Linked DNA regions of Homo sapiens: region 2 is linked to region 1. The links come from fine-mapping of genetic effects on gene expression. Tissue or cell type: whole blood. Region 1 holds a variant in brackets; the other region holds the start of a gene. All regions are shown on one strand. Distances are between the middles of the regions. Region 1 has its middle 7.3 kb from the start of DNAJB6. Region 2 holds the start of UBE3C (ubiquitin protein ligase E3C).

What was found.
Region 2: it holds the start of UBE3C, and the variant in region 1 is fine-mapped to the expression of UBE3C in whole blood (TOPMed, PIP above 0.99).

The regions. Positions count from the first base shown.
Region 1 is chr7:157,324,176-157,335,229 of GRCh38, forward strand. No RefSeq gene overlaps it. Among named protein-coding and RNA genes, the nearest start is that of DNAJB6, 7.3 kb to the right of the region's middle. RefSeq lists an enhancer at 9,928-10,007. The variant G/A (reference allele first, on the strand shown) is at 5,835.
Region 2 is chr7:157,134,482-157,145,535 of GRCh38, forward strand. UBE3C (ubiquitin protein ligase E3C) reads left to right here and starts at 4,445. Exons shown (of 23, transcript NM_014671.3): 1 at 4,445-4,857. The coding sequence starts at 4,792. RefSeq lists silencers at 3,937-4,286, 4,567-4,956, 5,007-5,076.

The sequences.
Region 1 (11,054 bases):
GGGTTTCACCATGTTGCCCAGGCTGGTCTCGAACTCCTGAGCTCAGGCAATCTGCCCGCCTTGGCCTCCCAAAGTGCAAGGATTACAGGCGTGAGCCACTGCACCTGGCCTCTGTATTAGAATTGTATAGAGATACTTGTTTTGTGTTTTCTTTTTTTTGAGATGGAGTTTTTGCTCTTGTTGCCCAGGCTGGAGTGCAATGGTGTGATCTCATCTCACTGCAACCTCTGCCTCCCAAGTTCAAGCAATTCTCCTGCCTCGGCCTCCCGAGTGGGTGGGATTACATGTGCTCACCACCACACCCAGCTAATTTTTGTATTTTTAGTAGAGATGGGGTTTCACCATGTTGGCCAGGCTGGTCTCAAACTCTTGACCTCAAGTGATCCACCCCCCTCGGCCTCCCAAAGTGCTGGGATTACAGGGGTGAGCCACTGTGCCCGGCCTAGAGATACTCTCTTTTTTTTTTTTTTTTGAGACAGAGTCTTGCTCTGTCGCCCAGGCTGGCGTGCAGTGGTGCGATCTCGGCTCACTGCAACCTCTGCCTCCCAGGTTCAAGCGATTCTCCTGCCTCAGCCTCCTGAGTAGCTGGGATTAGAGGTGTGCACCACTGTGCCTGGCTAATTTTTGTATTTTTAGTAGAGACGGGGTTTCACCATGTTGGTCAGGCTGGTCTTGAACTCCTGACCTCAGGTGATCCACCCGCCTCAGCCTCCCAAAGTGCTGGGATTACAGGAGTGAGCCACTGCACCCAGCCGAGATACTCTTAATATTCCAATGTCATCAAGCTGGAGATAAGAAAATTATGCCTAATTTTTTTTTTTTTTTTTTTTTTTTTTTAGATGGAGTCTCACTCTTGTCGCCCAGGCTGGACTGCGATGGCGCGATCTTGGCTCACTGCAACCTCCGCCTCCTGGGTTCAAGTGATTCTCCTGCTTCAGCCTCCCCAGTAGCTGGGATTACAGGCACCTGCCTCCGTGCTCGGCTAATTTTTGTATTTTTAGTAGAGATGGAGTTTCACCATGTTGGCCAGGCTAGTCTCGAACTCCTGACCGCAGGTGATCCACCCACCTTGGGCTCCCAAAGTGCTGGGATTACAGGTGTGAGCCACCGTGCCCAGCTGATTTTTCTTTTTAATTTCTTTTTTTCTTTTGACTGCTCCTTATAAAGCAGGGCTAACCCAAAGGCAGCACTCCCAGAGTAGCCATGCTTAAAAATTTAAAGAGGCAGCAACAACCACTTTTCTCAGTGAACTAATTCCTACAGTTGAGGTCTCAAGCACAACCACACAGGGTTCTAACTAGGTGCTCTCAAGTACCAGGCAGGGTTTAACCCTGAGTTTCATTGTAATGTGTCCATGGTATTGCATGATGTCTAGATTTGATGTCCTTGCATTATGAGAACATAAGAACAACATATAGTAACAGAAACACATGATGCATGGTGATTTGGAGGAGTCTCGCGGTTGGAGGAGAGCGGACAAACCGTAATGATGTGAAGTGAAGAAGCACTCATTAGAGAAGTGCCCAGCGAGCAGAAGCAAACGAAAAAGAAAGCAATCGCTGTGAGCATCAGAAACCAATGTGTATGTCCCCAGTGAAGGGCTACCAAACGGAAGTTCCTGGAGCGCCAGGGCTCTCTGGGAAGAAACCCGTACAGGGTCCTGTGTGGCAATGGTGGGTCAATGGAAGCAGAGATACCAATGAATGTTTTCACTGGTCATTGAATTTCTCTTACCCTGTTTGTTAGCATTCATTCAAAGAAAACGAGGTCAAGGCCAGGTGCGGTGGCTCACACCTGTAATCCCAGCACTTTGGGAGGCCAAGGTGGGCGGATCACGAGTTCAGGAGATCAAGACCATCTTGGCTAACACGGTGAAACCCTGTCTCTACTAAAAAAAAATACAAAAAAATTAGCTGGGCATGGTGGCGGGCACCTGTAGTCCCAGCTACTTGGGAGGCTGAGGCAGGAGAATGGCGTGAACCTGGGAGGTGGAGCTTGCAGTGAGCCGAGATCCAGCCGCTGCACTCCAGCCTGGGCAACAGAGCTAGACTCCGTCTCAAAAAAAAAAAAAAAAAAAAGAAAACGAGGTCAATTTGTCCCATGGCGTACAGTGCAGATCCCCTGACCCACAGTCTGGAACTTCAGCTATTCAATGTTAGGCTGACTGTCGCGTGGGGTGGGGTGCGGTTGGCTTGGGGAGAGACAGCCTTTCAGTTTGACTTTAAGATTTTCTTGTTGGGTACAGTGGCTCACGCCTGTAATCCCAACATTTTGGGAGGCTGAGGTGGGTGGATTCATTGAGCCCAGGAGTTCAACACCAGTTTAGGCAACAAAGTGAGACCATGTCTCTACAAAAAAAAACATAAAAAATTAGCCAGGCTTGTCCAGCTACTCAGGAGGCTGAGGTGGGAGGATTGCTTGAGCCTGGGAGGTCAAGGCTACAGTGAGCTGTGGTCGTGCCACTGCACTCCAGCCTGGGAAGAGTGAGACCTTGTCTCAAAAAAGGAAAAATTTTCTTTTTTTTTTTTTTGAAATGGAATCTCGTTCTGTCACCCAGGCTGTAGTGCAGTGGTACAATCTCGGCTCACTGCAAGCTCCACCTTCCGGGTTCACGCCAATCTCCTGCCTCAGCTTCCCAAGGAGGTGGGACTACAGGTGCTCGCCACCACACCCAGCTAATTTTTTGTATTTTTAGTAGAGATGGGGTCTCACTGTGTTAGCCAGGCTGGTCTCGATCTCCTGACCTCGTGATCCGCCCACCTCGGCCTCCCAAAGTGCTGGGATTACAGGGGTGAGCCACCACGCCCGGCCAGAAGATTTTCTTCTGTCTCCTTCCTTCTGGGTTGGGGAACGGGATGATGCCTATTTTTTGTTTTGTTTTTTTAGTTAGTTTTTCTTTTTTTTTTTGAGATGGAGTCTTGCTGTATCACCCAGGCTGGAGCGCAGTGGCGCAATCTCAGCTCATTGCAACCTCCGCCTTCCGTATTCAAGTGATTCTCCTGCCTCATCCTCCCAAGTAGTTGGGATTGCCATCACACCCAGCTAAGTTTTTTTTGTTTGTTTGATTTTTTTGAGACGGAGTCTCACTCTGTCGCCCAGGTTGGAGTACAGTGGTGCAGTGGTGCGACCTCGGCTCACTGCAACCTCTGCCTGCCGGGTTCAAGCAATTCCCCTGCCTCAGCCTCCCGAGTAGCTGGGATTATAGGTGCCTGCCACCATGCCCAGCTAATTTTTTTATTTTTAGTAGAGATGGGGTTTTACCATATTAGCCAGGATGGTCTTGATCTACTGACCTCGTGATCAGCCCGCCTCAGCCTCCCAAAGTGCTGGCATTACAGGTGTGAGCCACCTTGCCCGGCCCCAGCTAAGTTTTGTATTTTTAGTAGAGATGAGGTTTTGCCATGTTAACCAGGCTGGTCTTGAAATCCTGACCCCAGGTGATCCACCTGCCTCAGCCTCCCAAACTGCTGGGATTACAGGTGTGTGCCACTACGCCCAGCTAATTGCTGTATTTTTAGTAGAGAGAAGGTTTCGCCAGGTTGGCCAGGCTGAAGGAGTGATGCCTGTTCTGAAGTGGGCACAGTGACGATGGTGACAAGCCTTGCCACGCTTGGGGTTAGTGTTTCATTTTATCCAAGGTGGCCTCTTCAGTCATTGCTTCAGAGGCTCTGTAAGGCACCCGCTAGAACCTTGGGATTCATTATTTAAAGCTTATTTATTGGCTGGGTGCGGTGGCTCACGCCTGTAATCCCAGCAATTTGGGAGACCGAGGCGAGAGGATCACGAGGTCAGGAGATCAAGACCATCCTGGCTAACATGATGAAACCTTGTCTCTACTAAAAATACAAAAAATTAGCAGGGCGTGGTGGCACGCGCCTGTAGTCCCAGCTATTTGGGAGGCCTAGGCGGGAGAATCGCTTGAACCCAGAAGGCGGAGGTTGCAGTGAGCCAAGATCGCACCACTGCACTACAGCCTGGGCAACAGAGCAAGACTTGTCTCTAAATAAATAAATAAATAAATAAAATAAAGCTTATGTATTGAGCTGCTGCTGAGAACATCCCTGTAGCTGCAAAGAGCATGCGGATCAATTGCTCAGCAAGACAAACACTAAATCCCCAAACCATTTTTGGATATTTTTGTCATTTAAATGAGCCTAGTGGTGATGTGACTGCCATGATACCAGTCAGCCATAAAGGGATCAATGAAAAGCAATTGGGGCTGGGCACGTGGTTCACACCTGTAATCCCAGCACTTTGGGAGGCCGAGGGGGGTTGATCACTTGAGGTGAGGAGTTCAAGACCAGCCTGGCCACCATGGCAAAACCCTGTCTCTACTAAAAATACAAAATTGGCCCAGTGCGGTGGCGCATGCCTGTTATCCCAGATCCTCGGGAGGCTGAGGCATGAGAATCACTTGAACCTGGGAGGTAGAGGTTGCAGTGAGCCGAGATTGCACCACTGTACTCCAGCCTGGGTGACAGAGCAAGACTCTGTCTCAAAAAAATAAAATTAAAAAAAAAAGCAGCTGGATGTGGCGGCTCAGGCCTGTAATCCCAACACTTTGGAAGGCTGAATTGGGCAGATCACCTGAGGTCAGGAGTTTGGGACCAGCCTGGCCAATATGGTGAAACCCTGTCTCTACTAAAAATACAAAAAGTAGCTGGGCATGGTAGCACGTGCCTGTAGTCCCAGGTACTCCAGAGGCTGAGGCAGAGAAATCGCTTTAACCTGGGAGGCGGAGGTTGCAGTGAAGTGAGATTGTGCCACTGCACTCCAGCCTGGGTGACAGAGCGAGACTCTGCCTCAAAAAATAAAATAAAATAAGTAAAAAAGCAATTGGGATTAATAAGAACCTACAAATAATTTTTGGCATCAAACTCATTCTTTTGTTTCTAGATCCCGGTATGTAGTTTCTTTTCACAGCTATTCTAAAGTAATGCTGAATGATATATGGAGAATATAGAAGACTTTGCAGAGCTAGCACGAAATTAAATTGTGACTTGATCTGTGACTATCACCCATCATCAGTATTATTTTTTCTCTAATGGTGTGCAGGTTTCCTGAGCACACAGAGTCTCCTGTGGATTCCTCCTGGGACACAGACCCTGTGCTTGCTTATTGTCAGGAGCTCACACTTTTCCTGGAAGGAGGAATGGGGAGCTTAATGCCACAGAGAGTTTACATGGAACTGGTGTAGTGGATGTGTGGGAGCTGGACTTGCCCACATTAGCTGAATTTGTCGAAGTGGTGTTTCGTATCTAATTCCCCTACTCAAGTGAGACAAACCCATCTGCGAAGAAATCAGAGGATGCAAGGCTGAGAAGCAAACTCACGGCCCATCTCGTGTTTAGAGAAGCCTGACTTATCTTTGATCCAGTGTCCTGAGGCAGTGTGAGGCTGCTCACCAGCTGCCAATGAAAGCCCGGCCTGACCCACTTTCAAGGCCACGCAGACACAACAGTCTCTCCTGCCACAGTCGGGATCTGTCACCACCAGCGGCCAGCCTTCGGGGAGTGCTGACCCGTGCTGACCAGCCTGACCAGCATGGTGAAACCCTGCCTCTACTGAAAATACAAAAATGAGCCAGGCGTGGTGGTGCATGCTTGTAATCCCAGCTATTTGGGAGGCTGAGGTGGCAGTATTGCTTATACCCGCTGGAACCCCGGAGGTGGAGACGCAGCACCAGGTGCTTCTGTCTCGCCCTTTCTACTCCACATTTCCTCTTGGTCTATTTATTCTATATGTGAATACATTCCCATGCCACGAGGTTCAAACAAGAAGTATAAAGGACAGTGTGTGAAAATTCCTATTCCCGGCCAGGTGCGGTGGCTCAT[G/A]CCTGTAATCCCAGCACTTTGGGAGGCCGAGGAGGGCGGATCACGAGGTCAGGAGTTTGAGACCAGCCTGGCCAACATGGTGAAACTAAGGATACAAAAAAATTAGCCAGGCGTGGTAGCGCACGTGCCTGTAGTCCCAGCTACTCAAGAGGCTCATGCAGGAGAATCAGAATCACTTGAACCCGGGAGGCAGAGGATGCAGTGAGCTGAGATCGTGCCACTGCACTCCAGCCTGGGTGACAGGGTGAGACTCTGTCTCAAAAAAAAAAAAAAAGAAAAAATTCCTCTTTCCTTCTCTGCTTCTCAGGACTTACCCCTAACAGTTTTCTGCTCTTTTGCCCATCCCCAACCCCTGCAACTTAAAAAAAAGTTTTGTTTGTTTCTTTCGTTTGTTTCTTTTGTTTGTTTGAGACAGAGTCTCACTGTCACCCAGGCTGGAGTGCAGTGGTGTCATCTCTGTCCACTGCACCCTCCACCCACCAGGTTCAAGCAATTTTCCTGCCTCAGCCTCCCGAGTAGCTGGGATTACAGGTGTGCGCTACCATGCCTGGCTAATTTTTGTATTTTTAGTAGAGACAGGGTTTCGCCACGTTGGCCAGGCTGGTCACGAACTCCTGACCTCAAATGATCCACCCACCTTGGCCTCCCAAAGTGCTGGGATTATAGGCATGAGCCACTGCACCCTGCCTAAAAACAATTTTTTTTTTTTTTGAGACAGTGTCACACTGTCACCCGGGCTGGAGTGCAATGGCGCAATCTCGGCTCACTGCAACCTCCGCTGCCCGGGTTCACAAGATTCTCCTGCTTCAGCCTCCCGAGTAGCTGGGATTACAGGTGCACACCACCACACCTGGCTAATTTTTTGTATTTTTAGTAGAGATGGGGTTTCACTATGTTGGCCAGACTGGTCTCAAACTCCTGACCTTGTGATCCGCCCACTTTGGCCTCCCAAATTGCTGGCATGAGTCACTGAACCTGCCAAAACAATTTTAAAGCTAAAGAAAAGTTAAAAGAATAGAATAGGCTGAGTGTGGTAGCTCATGCCTGTAATCCCAGCACTTTGGGAGGCTGAGGCAGGTGGATCACTTGAGGTCAGGAGTTTGAGAACAGCCTGACCAACATGGTTAAACCCCACCTCTACTGAAAATACAAAAATGAGCCGGGCTTGGTGGTGCATGCTTGTAATCCCAGCTATTTGGGAGGCTGAGGTGGCAGTATTGCTTATACCCACTTGAACCGTGGAGGCGGAGGTTGCAGTGAGCTAAGATCATGCCACTTCCCTCCAGCCTGGGCGATAGAGCAAGACTTCGTCTCAAAAAAAAAACGTGTGTGTATATATATACGTTTATGTCTATTAAACATATATATTTTGATATTTTTATTAAACATATATATTTTAAAAACATATTAAACATATATACCATTTTGATATTTTTTATTAAGCATATATATGTTTAACAGGCAATATATTCACATAGTTTAAAACATATTCAGTGAACATCATTTTACCCTCAGCCCCCTCTTCTCTGTATTTTCTGCCCCACTCCCCAATGTCTTAAGTGTAATTGCAGAGTTTCTTATACAAATGCATGTTCTTTTTCTTTCTCTCCTTGCTATACACACTGTTCTAATGTTTTAAACCTTGCCTTTTTTTCTTACTTAGCAATATATCTTGATGATGATAAGATAAAGTGATTTCTAAGAATATATGTGAATAATTCTGTAATACAGTGAAAGTTCCTTACTCCTGGCCTCAAGTCATCCTCCCACCTCAGTTTTCCAAAGTGCTGGGATTATAGGCATGAGAAAGTTCCTGTTTAGTGTGTTTGAATAATCAGGGATTAAGCCAATATTTGTCTTTTTTAAAGCTAACATTTCTAAAATGAGCAGTGGGTAATTTATTTTGATGGCAGGAAACGTAACAAGTAAAGCACTTATATATAGGACTCTTCAAAGGTAATCAAATTTTAGGTATTCTTTGACAGTTTTGATTTACATACTTTCCTCTGAGGGTTTGAGCACAGGGATTTCATTAGAGAAACATTAAATAAGTATGTGTGTGAGATACCACAGTTCTCATACACTGCCCTGTTTATTTCTGATACCAGTATAGTAGCTATCCGTAGCTATCCTTCTTCCTATTTTACAGATAGGGAAACCGAGGCTTGTTGATGTGGGTAAAGTCAGTGCGTCATCAGCCCTAAAGTTTTATTGGGCATCAGGGGATGTGGGCACCACAGGGAACCATGCCTCGCACCCCTGTGGCCACTCAGCCTCCAGTCTGGCCCCAGTCAGCACTGGGTCCTCTTCCCTCTGCCCTGCAGCCTCTGTGCTTGCTGGCCCATGAAGCTTCTCGGTCCACTTTTGGCCTTGAACATTTCAGCTGCCCTCAACCCCCGGGGCTCCCTGCAAGCCATTACCCCAAATCCATCCACATTCTCCACGCTCCTCCTTTCTTTCTTTTATTTTTTGAGACGGAGTTTCACTCCTGTTGCCCAGGCTGGAGTGCAATGGCACGATATCATCTCACCGTGACCTCCACCTCCTAGGTTCAAGTGATCCTCCTGCCTCGGCCTCCCGAGTAGCTGGGATTACAGGTATGCGCCACCACGCCCGGCTACTTTTTGTATTTTTAGTAGAGACCAGGTTTCACCATGTTGACCAGGCTGGTCTTGAACTCCTGACCTCAGGGGATCTGCCCACCTCGGCCTCCCAAAGTGCTGGGATTATAGGCGTGAGCCACCGCACTCGGTCTCCAAAGACTTTTCACTCCTACTTAAATCTTTTCTGGGATAAATCCTTGTCATTGAAAGACCTCGTTGTTTCAAAAGAGTTAATTAAATATTACCATTTAATCTCCAAGGTGTTTATACCTGTCCTCCCTAACTGCTATGTGAAGTCCATCAGGATGGGGACCTTGTTTTGTACTGGTTGCTTTTCTTCATGATAAAATTTATTGTATTGACATGCTTCTTAAAAATTATGTATGTATTTGTTTAGAGACAGAGTCTTGCTCTGGCACCCAGGCTGCAGTGCCATGACATGATCACTGTTCACTGCAGCCTCGACCTCCTAGTCTCAAGTGCTCAAGTGGTCCTCTTACTCAGCCTCTTGAGTAGCTGGGACTATAGGTGTGTGCCACCATGCCCAGAAAATTTTCTTTTTTCTTTTTTTTTCCTGAGACAGAGTCTTGCTTTGTCACCCAGGCTAGAGTGCAGAAGCACGATCTCTGCTCACTGCAACCTCTGCCTCCCGGGTTCAAGCAATTCTCCTGCCTCAGCCTCCTGTGTAGCTGGGAATATAGGCATGTGCCACGACACCGGGCTAATTTTTTGTACTTTTAGTAGACATGGGGTTTCGCCATGTTGGCCAGGCTGGTCTCGAACTCCTGACCTTGTAATCTGCCCACCTCAGCCTCCCAAAGAGCTGGGATTATAGGCGTGAGCCACTGTGCCTGGTCATAATTTTCTATGTATTTATTTTTGAGACAGGGTCTGTGTTGCCTAGACTGGAGTACAGTGGTGCTCTACTGAAGCCTGGACCTCCCTGGGCTGAGGTGATTCTCCCACCTCAGCCGCCTGAGTGGTTGGGACTATAGGTGTGTGCCACCGCACTTGGCTAATTTTGCTATATTTTGTACAGATGGGGTTTCACCAAGTTGCCCAGGCTGCTGTCGAACTCTTGAGCTCAAGCAATCTTCTCGCCTCGGCCTCCCAAAGTGCCAGAAAAAAATAATTTATTTTTGGTAGAAATGGGGTCTTGCGGTGTTACCTAGGCTGGTCTGGAATTCCTAGGTTCAAGCAATCCTCCTGCCTCAGCTTCCCAAAGTGCTGGGATTACAGGTGTGCACCACTGTGACCAGCCTGATACGCGTTTTAATGTGTGTGTGTGTGTGTATATATATATACACACACACACATACACACACATATATTTTCTTTTTCGAAGGGGGAAAAGCTATTTGTGGCTAGCCTACCACTTACAATGTAAAATTCATGTCTGTGCTGCTTACATTTCAAGATGAGCTCACAATCACTGTAGGGACGTATTGACATGTAAAATGTCCCATGATAGTACTGTCTGTCCACACTGAGATGGAACTAAACCTCCATCAATCTGCAAGCAGATAGGTTACATGTGACAGTGCCAAGCTGTGCACATATCTGAAATTCCAGTCTTTGCTGAGATTATTTTAGGTTTTATTATGAGATGCCCATACTAACACAAACTATTATTTCTTCCTTTTGAACAGTCATTTATATAACCAGTAAAAAAAGAGAATAGAGGCTGGGCTTGGTGGCTCATGCCTGTAATCCCAGCACTTTGGGAGGCTGAGGTGGGTGGATCACCTAAGGTCAGGAGTTTGAGACCAGCCTGGCCAACATTGTGAAACCGCATCTCAACTAAAAATACAAAAAATTAGGCATGCATGGTTGCTCATGCCTGTAATTCCAGCTACTCAGGAAGCTGAGACAAGAGAATCACTTAAACCTGGGAGGTGGAGGTTGCAGTGACCCTAGATTGTGCCACTGCACTCCAGCCTGGAGGACAGACAGAGAGACTCAGTCTCAAATAAGAATAGAGAATCCAGTCAGATTTTCCTTTGCTAACTGATCATTTGCTAGAAATGACATGCAGTAATACAATTAAAGTTTAAGAAACACAAAAAATGAGCCCAGCACAGCGGCTCATGCTGGTAATCCCAGCACTTTGGGAGGCTGAGGCAGGAGGACTGCTTGAGCCCAGGAGGTTAAGGCTGCAGTGAGCCATGATTGAACCACTGCACTCCAGCCTGGGTGACAGAGCAAGACCCTGTCTCAAAAAAAAAAAAAAAAAAAAAAAAAAAAGGGCAGTATTTCATTTTGAAGTATAACAATTACAGCCATTAACCAAGTGTTCCAGTTGTCTAAAATGAGGCAGGTGTAGACGGAAAATTTTCCCTGTACTCTCTGAAGGTTTCACAACTGAGTCTCTGAACTAAGCTGACAATAGACAGATTCGTAAGAGAAAAAGTATACAAATCTATAACATGTACTAGGGCATCCCAGAATCCAGTGAGATCTGGAAGCTTATACAGCCCCTTCATAGAAGAGAGGGGAGGCAGATGCAGGCAGCTCAGGGGAGAGAAAATGATTTTTTGCCTTCAGAATAGGTGGTGGCCTGTGGCAAAATCTGTCTGGGTGTGCAGCTGACGTCCCTTGAAGCTCTTCTCCCGTGATC
Region 2 (11,054 bases), 190 kb before region 1:
ATGGAGCAGGGCCACCCAGCAGACGCACCGACCTCAGCACAGAGGAGCACCCACCCTGGGCTGACTGTGGAAACAGACCAGATGCCAGGCAGCGGTGTTGAGATGGGCAGAGGTGCAGTCAGGAGCACTTCTTCCCTACCCATGTGGGCCGGTCAGAACATTTGAAAGAGGCCCAGCAGATGTGGGACAGCACCCCCCAGTTACCAGCAACACTGAGGTTGGTGTGAGATTCACATGGGCATTCTTGCTCCTCCTCCTAGTCCAGACATTGGAAGGGTTCATTCGAAGCAGAATCTCAGACTTCAGGCTGGGCGCGGTGGCTCACGCCTGTAATCCCAGCACTTTGGGAGGCCAAGGCGGGCGGATCATCTGAGGTCAGGAGTCCAAGATCAGCCTGATCAACGTGGTGAAACCCCATCTCTACTAAAAACACAAAAATTAGCCGGGCATGGTAGCGCACCTATAATCCCAGCTACTCGGGATGCTGAGACAGGAGAATCGCTTGAACCCAGGAGGTGGAGAGGTGGAAGCTGCAGTGAGCCAAGATCACGCCATTGCACTCCAACCCGGGCAACAAGAGCAAGACTCTGTCTCAAAAAAAAAAAAAAAAAAAAAAGAATCTGAGACTTCAGAGCAGACTTACAGAGGTCACAAATATTGATATTACCAATTTTAAATCTTTGCTAACCTGACAGGTAAAAACAAAAGGTTATATCTTTTTTAATTGACAAAATTTGTAAGCTTTCAAAATGGTAAAATTGGGACATTTTATGATTAAAAATACATTCTATACTGTTGCAGTTCAAATATATGTATGAACTATGATAGTTCATACATATATACGAACTGTGACCTTGTTCACATATATATACACACACACATTTGTGTCTGGGTGTGGGTGCCTTAGTCTATTTGGGTTGCTATAACAAAATGCCTTGGCCTGGGTAATTTTTGGACAACAGAAATATATCTCTCACAGCTCTGGAATCTGGGAAGTCCAAGATCAAGGCACCCCACATTCTGCGTCTGAGGACTCTGCTTCATAGATGGTGCCTTCTTGCTGTGTCTCCCCATGGCAGGAGGGACAAACAGGCTGCCTTGGGCACTGATTTCCTTCATGGGGGTGGAGCCTCATGCTATAAGACTTCCTAATGGCCCCTCCTCTTAATACGATCACATTGGGGACTAAGTTTCAAACTATGATTTTGGGGAGACACCAACATTCAGACAACAGTAGAGTGTTTGTATATCTTTCTAACCATCTATCTGTCTATATTTAATTTATATGGCAGATTTTTTCAAACTGTGAGCTGAGACCCATTAGTGGATTGTGAAACGTATTTAGTGCTTTGCGTCTAGCATTAAAAAGAAGACGACGACAGTGGGTGCAGTGGCTCATGCCTGTAATCCCAGCACTTTGGGAGGCCGAGGCAGGAGGATCTCTTGAGCCCAGGAATCTGAGACCAGCCTGGGCAACATAATGAGACCCACCTCTACAAGAAGTGGGGGGGGGGGGAAAGCTGGGGGGTTGGGGGGAAAGCCAGGCTACTGGCACACACCTGGTCCAGCCATTTGGGACGCTGAACTGGGAGAATTGCCTGAGCACAGGAGGTTGAGGCTGCAGTTAGCTGTGATCGTACCACAGCACTCCAGCCTGGGCAATACAGTGAGACCCTGTCTCAAAAAAATAATAATAAAATAAAATAAAAAGACAGAATTTTTTTTAAAAAAAACAGTGCATTCCACATAGTAATGACAAATATTAGTTTTAAAATTTGGCTTTTCCCAATTAAAAAACGAGCAAAGGGCCTGAATTTTTCCAAATAGACATAAAAACGGCCAAGAGGTAATGAAAAGGTGCTCATCGTCAATAACCGTCAAGGAAATGCAAAACAAAACCACAATGAAATATCACCTCACAGTATTAGCATGGCTATTATCCAAAAGACAAGTGTTGGTGAGGGTGTGGGGAAATAGAAGCCTTTGCCCATCGTTGGAGGTACAGCCATTATGGCAAACAGTATGGAGTTTCCTCAAAAAAAACAAAACTGGAACTACCACATGACTCAGCGATCCCTCTGCTGGTTATATATCTACAGGAAATGAAATTGTTTCTTCTGGAGCTCCTCTCAGTTCATTGCAACATTATTCATAACAGCAAGATACAGAAGGAATTCCTGTCATTGGCTACATGTGTGAACCTGGAGGACATGATGCCAAGTTAAATAAGCGAGACAGAGAGAAAGATACTGATGAGCTCACTTATACGTGGAATCCAACAGTCAAATCCTATCTAGAAACAGAGAGTAGAGTGGTGCTTCCTGGGGCTGGGAAAAATGGGGAGAGATATGTAAAAGGAAACACACTCGCAGTTATGTAGCATAAATATGCCCACAGATCTAATGTTCACAGGAGGACTGTTTATTATTATTGTTATTAATTTTTATTTTTATTTATTTATTTTGAGACGGAGTCTCCCTCTGTTCCCCAGGCTGGAGTGCAGTGGCGCGAGTGGCGCGATCTCGGCTCACTGCAAGCTCCGCCTCCCGGGTTCACGCCATTCTCCTGCCTCAGCCTCCCAAGTAGCTGGGACTACAGGCGCCTGCCACTATGCCTGGCTAATTTTTTTGGTATTTTTAGTAGAGACGGGGTTTCACTGTGTTAGCCAGGATGGTCTCGATCTCCTGACCTCGTGATCTGCCCGCCTCGGCCTCCCAAAGTGCTGGGATTACAGGCGTGAGCCACCGCGCCCGGCCTGTTTATTTTTATTTTTTGAGACAGAGTCTCACTCTGTCACCCAGGCTGGAGTACAGTGGCACGATCTCAGCTCATTGCAACCTCCGCCTCGCAGACACAAGCGAGTCTCTTGTCTCAGCCTCCCAAGCAGCTAGAAGTTTAAGAACTTTAAGTGGGGGACCACCTATACATAAACATGCCACCATGCTCAGCTAATTTTTGTACTTTTAGTAGAGACGGGGTTTCCCCATGTTGGCGAGGCTGGTCTCAAACTCCTGACCTGAGGTGATCCACCCACCTTAGCCTCCCAAAGTGCTGGGATTACAGGCGGCGCCAGGACTGTATTTCTTTTTTTTTTTTTTTTTTTGAGACGGAGTCTCTGTGTCGCCCAGGCCGGAGTGCAATAACACGATCTCAGCTCACTGCAACCTCTGCCTCCTGGGTTCAAGCAATTCTCCTGCCTTAGCCTCCAGAGTAGCTTGGACTACAGGCGTGCACCACCACACCGGCCTAAGTTTTGTATTTTATTAGAGATGGGGTTTCACCATGTTGGCCAGGCTGGTCTCGAACTTTTCACTTCAGGTGATCCGCCCGCCTTGGCCTCCCAGAGTGCTGGGATTACCGGCGTGAGCGACCGTGCTCGGCCGCAGGACGACTGTAGATGATATCGTATTGTGTGTTGAAATTTTGCTAAGAGAGTAGATTTTATGTACTCTTACCACACACACACAAAGAGGGTAGTCATTTCACAATGTCTCTATGAAATCATCATGTTGCACACCTTGTATACAACCAAAAATCAATTTTTAGAAATTGGTTTCAATCGTGTATGATATATATGTATATGCACATGTATATGAGATATTATGTATACGTATGTGTGGATATAAGACACATGTTTATGTATAGGTGGTCCCCAACTTAAAATGGCTCAACTTACAATTTTTTGACTTTGTGATGGGTTTATTGTAGCATTAAATACATTTTCAACTTACAATATTTTCATCTTACGATGGGTTTATCAGGACAAAGCCCCATGGTAAGTCCAGGAGCAAATATTTTTGCATACACAGGTATGTGTACATGATACATATTTATATGTATTGATGCTGTATCTATAGATGCATATGTGTGCTATGTATGAGGCAAATCTGCGCATGTCTGTGTACATGGTAAATATTTACGTCCGTCTGTGCGTGTCATAGACATAGAACAGGTGGGATGTAAACAGACGGGCTGGGCCTAGCTGCTCCTTTCCCGCCTCACTCGAGTCTGGCACCAGATTGGCCGCTCCCAGCCCGCTCCGGGTGCCGGCCCCTGCACCCCACCCTGCACCCCGCACCCTGCCCTGCACCCCATCCCGGCCCGTGCCTCGCACTCCACCTTTCCCGCACCCTGCCCCGCACCCAACACCTCCCGCGCCCCTCGCCGCGCTCCCCCAGCACGCACCAGGCCCCGCCCACTCCGCCGCGTGCCCAGCCCGCGTCACCGCCGTCCTCCCCAGGCTCCAGCGCGCCTTGCGGGGCCGCGCACGCTAGCGGAACCGCCGGGAAGAGCGCCGTGCCGTCAATGGCGGAGGCGCGCACGTCTGCAGGGCCGCGCACGTCTGCAGGGCCGCGCACGTCTGCAGGGCCGCGCACGTCTGCAGGGCCGCGCACGTCTGCAGGGCCGCGCACGTCTGCAGGGCCGCGCACGTCTGCAGGGCCGCGCACGCACTGACGGCTGACCGCCATCTTCCCTCCCGAGGCGGCAGTTCCAGGTGCAAGCGCCGGGTTTGCTGCCCGCTGGGCGCCCCTGCAGCGGCCCGAGCTGTGGCCGGCGTGGATGAGGGGCAGGCGAGGCAGGGCCGCCCCTCCAGTATTGCCGCCCCTCCCGCCCCAGGGCAGGGCTGGGAGGGTACAGCCCGGGGGCGGGCTCGGGTCGCCTCCCGGCCGCCGCGTCCTCGCTGCCCCGGGCCGGGCGGGCGGGCGCCGAGAGCCTCCCAGCCCGCCCCGTGCCCCGCCCGCCCGGCTGCTTCCGCGGCGGCGCTGCCCGCACATGGGCTAGGCTGCCAGGATGTTCAGCTTCGAAGGCGACTTCAAGACGCGGCCCAAGGTGTCCCTTGGCGGCGCGAGCAGGAAGGTGAGGGCCGGGCTGGCGGGGCGCCCTCGGCTCGGGGCCTGCGCGGCCGGGGCTCGGGGCTGGGACTCGGGGCTGGACTCGGGGCTGGACTCGGGGCCGAGACTTGGGGCTGGATTCGGGGCCTCCCTGGCGGGGACTCGGGGCTTCCTCGCCGGATCTCGGGGCCGCTCCGGCCGGGACTCGGGGTTGGACTCGGAGCCGAGACTTGGGGCCAGGACTCTGGCTGGGGCTTAGGACTGGACTCGGGGCCTCCCTGGCTGGAACTCGAGGCCGCGCCCGTGGGGGCCTTGCCTGTCCACTGCGCTTCGGGACCCGGGCGCGCTGGCCGTGGCTCCCTTCCATGCAGGAGGCCGGTGAACCCTGGCACGCTTTGTGCCACCCAAGGTGAACTTACCCTTTCTGGGTGTTTCCTTTCAGAAATGCGCTTTCCATGCTCGCTCCCGCATGGCATCAGGGAGTGGCTGCTTTTCGAATGCCACCTGAAGGGCGTTTTCGGTTGTAGAAGGTGAACGGCACGCATTTGCTGATGTCGATAATCTCTAAAGTAGAGGCAGAACGTCTCATGAATAGCCACGTGTTTGAATCCAAGACGAGGGCAATTATTTGCCACCAGCCTCCTGGAAACTGTGGAGAGACTCCGGACTTACATCTGTTGTGATCGACATTAAGTTGTTCGCATGGTAATTGTTTAGGATAAGGGTAGGCAAACCATGACGCCTCTGTTCTAGTCTAGAATTTCTAGCTGTCTGTCCCTGAAGACGGGCATCAGTTGGTTCACTGGAACCGCTAAGTCGTTGAACACTGTGTGGTCTTGTTCCCGCCCCTCCCTTCCCACCCCTTCCCATCATTTCTGAAATGTTCTTTAAAATGCTTCACCTAGTTTTTCTTGTCTATCAGTATATTCTGTATATCACAACCACCAGGTAGGCACATAACGCAGAGTGGGTGCTGGCAGGCCAAGGAGGAACTGCTGTTATTAAGATTGTGCTGTGGGGCTGTGTTTGGTGGTTTCTGAGGTTAGAAGGGAACCTGGGTAAAGAGTTGGGAGAGAAGTGTGCTGATAATTTTTCAGCTTTGAGGTTCGTGTGATGGTGATTGCTTGGAAGTCACTTGTGCTCCAGAACTAAGTACTGTGCAGTTAAGGGTGGTCGTGGTAGCACTTAGGGTCTTCCACGTTAATGAAAATGTTTTATGAGATCAAAGGATTTCTACAGTTAGGAGAGACTTCAGAGAATCTCAGGGCCAAATCGCCTTGCTTACAAGTTCGGAAGGTGAGCTGCAGAACATTTGAAGGAGTGCCCATTCACACAGCAAGCTAGTGGCAGACCATCTGAGACTCCATGCCATTTACACAGCGCCGCGCGGCCTCTGTTGCAGGCAGGAACACCCCACGGGCCACGGATGTTGGTCCCTTTTCACCAAGGAGTGCATCTCTGCTCTGAGGGAGTGAGATTTCTTAACTGTTGATCAGAATCTCAAGGGAAGATAGCACGAGCTGTGTAAAAGAATCACCCCTTTAAAAACAAAACTCTTTTTATTGAGGTATAACTTAAGATACAGTCAGGTTCACAAACACTAAAGAGATCCTTGTGCAAGTGAAATTGAGGAGGAAGGGCGAGAGGGAAGCTGGGTAGGGAAGGAAAAGGCGTCTCAGCTGGAGGCTAGCGTTAACCCCATCTCACCAGGAGCATGCTACAATTGGCCCTAATTGCGGCAGAGGGGTTGGTGGCTGCAGGCTGCTGCCCCTCCGGGATGAGGGTGGGAGTGTGGCACTGCTAACCCTGAGCCGAGGGCCATTCTTCTGGGAGAGAGTGGCAGTAAAGAGCCCTTAGTAGGAACTGGCAGCAGCTGGGGCATGGGTGCCCTGGCCTGGTTAAGGAATCTGGGTGGGGAGCCAGCTGTATGTACAGCTTGAAGGATTTTTGCATATGGACACTCTCCTGTAGATGGAACACCACTCACATCAAAGGAAGACCATCCCCAGCATTCCAGAGGCTCCCCTGCACTCTCACCCATTCATTACAGTCATATGTGACTTAAAGAGGGGGACGCTGTCACTAGTCCAGTTGGTTGTTGTGGGACCGTCCTAGAGTGCACTTAACAGAAACCTATAGCCAGTGTTGCCCACTGCACACCTAGCTGCTTGGTACAGCCCGTTGCCCCTATGCTACACACCTGGACAGCGTGTTTCTGTGCTGAATACTGTAGGCAGCTCTTCATGCAATGGTGAGTGTCTGTGCATCCAAACGTAGATACAGTAAAAATACAAATTATAATCTTATGGGACCACGGTGTATATGTGGTCTGTTGTCGACAGACTGAGAGGTCATTATGCCATGTATGTCTGTAGCCCCACAAAGGTGACTGTCCTTCTGACCTCCATTACTGTAGATGAGCGTTACCTGTTGAACTTCAGGGGCATGGAGCCACTCACCACTTGTCGTTTGTGCCCGGCTGCTTTGGCTTGGCTTCTGTCTGAGAGGTGGACTCCATCCGCCTCGGTGCACGGCATTGCCCTTTGTGTGAACGCACCGTGGCTGATTCTGTTTTCTTACAGACCTTTGCTGTGTGTGCCTTTTGGTGCACATAATACTCTTGTGCTGGGTCCTAGATGATACGCATGTTCAGCTGTTGTGCACACCGCTGCCACAGTTTCCCCGTGTCGCACGCCCACAGCATCTGAAGGTATCCAGGTTTCCACATCCTTGCCAACACTTGATATTGCAAGTCCTTTAATTTTAGTGAGGATGTAGTTTCTTTGTGGTTTTAATTTTGTTTCCTGACAACTAATTATGTTGAGCACCTACATATGCTTGTTTTCCTGAATTCTCTTTGACTGCCGCATAAGTCCCTTCCCTTGTTGGAAAAATGAAGTTATAGTGACCCTTTTCTCATGTCTTAAATTATTATTTGAAATCTTCCCTTTCTGGAGCTTAGTGGAAAATGGAGTGGTTACCACCTTTGAATAAGCTTTTTCTTTTTTCAAATTAAATACTTTTAGTATTTATTATTTGTATAGATCTGTGTACGACAAGTCTGACTTGAAGAAGTTGATAATCTTGTTGGGCAGATAAGACTTAAGCAATTAAAAATTAAATAACAATAGAGTAATTGCTACATTCTAAATTTCCCTTGGTCCTGATTCAGAAAAAGTAGAATTGTTTGGAGCTTAGTCCTGAAGGATGGGTGTAATTAGGATGGGTGGAAGACGAGAAGGCATTCCAGGTTCGTGGAGCGGGGTGTGTGGAGTACATGTAGATTGGATTACATTGATTCAAAGTCACTTTGGGGAGCTAAACATTGATTACACATGGACATAAAGATGGGATGATAGACACCAGGGACTACTAGAGGGGGAAAGAGAGGGACGGGGACAAGGGCTGGGAAGCTACCTGTTGGTAACTGTGCTCACTCCCCGGGTAATGGGATCATTCACACCCCAAACCTCCGCGTCCTGCAGTATATTCTTGTAACAAACGTGCATAGGTACCCCCTAACTCTAAAATAAAAGTTGAATTTTTTTTTTTTTTTTGAGATGGAGTTTCGCTCACGCTGGAGCGCAGTGTTGCCCAGGCTGGAGTGCAATGGTGCGATCTCAGCTCACCACAAACCTCCACCTCCCGGGTTCAAGCGATTCTCCTGCCTCAGCTTCCCGGGTAGCTGGGATTACAGGCCTGCACCACCACGTCTGGCTAATTTTGTATTTTTAGTAGAGATGGGGTTTCTCCATGTCGGTCGGGCGGGTCTCGAACTCCCGACCTCAGGTGATCCGCCTGCCTCAGCCTCCCAAAGTGCTGGGATTACAGGTATGAGCCACTGCGCTCAGCCTGAAATTTTTTTTTAAGTCACACTGATTTCTATCTTTAAATATTTCTGACATCGGGATACACACTGATAGCATGATGCAGTTTAATTGGGGGTATGTTTTTCTTGGTAGTGTATAGAAGAATATCACGGGGTCATCTGATTTCAAGTACAGAAATGGACTAAAACTAGCTTAGTAGGCAAAACAAAAAGAAACAAAAACAAGTTTATGAAAGGATAGGCGTGTCTGACAGAATAGAAAGGTCAGAAACACCCAGATAGCAGGTATCACCACCACAGGAGTTGCTTGTCTTTCTCCAGGAGCTGGGTGCACTCCCTTCTTCCTGTCTCCTTCATTCCTGGCTCTGCAGACTGGCTTTCTCCATTTCTCACACATGGTTTCCTAGCTTAAGCGTCAAGAAAGTTTGATCATAATTACCAGTTTTCAGGAGAGGAAAGTCTGATTGGCCTGGGTCATGTTTCCACCTGATAACCTCAGTCTGAGGAGGGCTTGGAGGCTTGGTTCAGATGGAACAGTCTAGGTGCACCTGAGGGCTGGGGTAGATTCTTCAAGAAGCGGGGAGTGGTCGTTGACTGAATGCCTGAGTTCCTGTGGGACAGGCACAGGAAGGAGTCTAGGCTAGAGATGCAGATTTGGGGGTTATCAACAGAATGGTGGCTTCGAACACAGGTCCTTAAGAGGACTTGGAGTTTGGGACAGGGTGGGACTCGTGAGGTACTGCAACATTTAATATGTGTGGGAGTTGGGGATACTTACAAAAGAGTCACACCTCCGGGAGTGGAGGAGAGTGGTGTCCAGGGAGTGAATCTCAGGGAGGGAGGAGTGACAGGCAATGCCAAGTGCTGCACAGACACAGTGAGTCCACTGACTGCGGAGCTGGGAAGAATTGGGTGATTTGAGCATATTCTGTAGGGTAGTCAGAGTTGGAAGTCAAGAGCATAGCACATTGGAGAGTGAATGGGAAGTCACAAACAGGGCCGAACACAGGCCGGATGCTGTGGCGCACGCCTACAATCTGCCACACCGAAGACTGAGGCGGGAGGATCGCTGGATCCCGGGAGTTCAAGGCTGCAGTGAGCTGTGATCATGCCATAGCACTCCAGCCTAGGCGACACAGCATGACCCCATCTCTTAAAAAATAAGGCAGGGGCAAGGCAACAGTGTAGACCTTTTTTGAAAAGCACCGGAAGATTGGATGATAGAGGGAAATTCGGTGTCTCGGAAATAGTTTTGTCTGTTTTGGGAGACGGGGGAAACTTAAGTTTATAGACTGGGAAGGACGGGGGTTAAAAATGTGGGGAAGACAGGAGTGGCATAACTTTCAGAGTCTTCGAGAATACCCGAGAGGGGAGAACTGAGTGGGAGCAGGCAATGGGAAATATTTTGAGACTTAAAGAAGCTAGGGATGAATATGGATATAGAAAAGTTTGTAGACCGGAGGAACTGAAATTTTTTAAGTTTTTGTAGATCTGACAATAGTGGGAGTAGAATTAAGATCACTTTAATGTTTGTCCAGTGCTTTTTTTAAAAAAAAATAGACTTTATTTTTTAGAGCAGTTTCAGGTTTACAATCAAGCAGAGGGTAGGGTTCCCATATGCCTAGTCTCCCTCACCTCACTTTTCTCTATTACTAGCATCTGGCATTAATGTGGATCATCAGTTACAATTGATAAACCAATGTCGATGTGTTATTATTAATTGAAGTCCATAGTGTACATTCAGGTTCACACTGTGTGTTGTGCATTGTGTAGGTTTTGACGAATATATGATGACATGTATCTACCCTTACAGCGTTATACAGAAGAGTGTCATTGCCCTAGAAATCCTCATTGCTGGCCAGGTGTGGTGGCTAATGCCTGTAATCCCAGCACTTTAGGAGGCCGAGGTAGGCAGTCAGGAGTTTGAGACCAGCCTGGCCAACGTGGTGAAACCCCGTCACTACTAAAAATACAAAAAATTAGCTGGGCGTGGGAGGCTGAGGCAGGAGAATTACTTGAGCCCTGGAGGTGGAGGTTGCAGTGAGCCTGGATTGTGCCAGCGCATTCCAGCCTGGGTGACAGAGCATGACTCTGTCTCCAAAAAAAAGAAAAAAGGAGGAGGCCCGGCACTTTGGAAGGCCAAGGAGGGTGTATCACCTGGAGTCAAGAGTTCGAGACCAGCCTGGTCAACATGGTGATACTCTATCTCTACTAAAAATACAAAAATTAGCCAGGCGTGGTGACAGGTGCCTGTAATTGCAGCTACTCAGGAGGCTGAGGCAGGAGAATTGCTTGAACCCGAGAGGCAGAGATTGCAGTTAGCTGAGATCACGCCATTGCACTCCAGCCTAGGTGACGAGAGTGATACTCTTTTAAAAAAGAAAAAAGGAAGA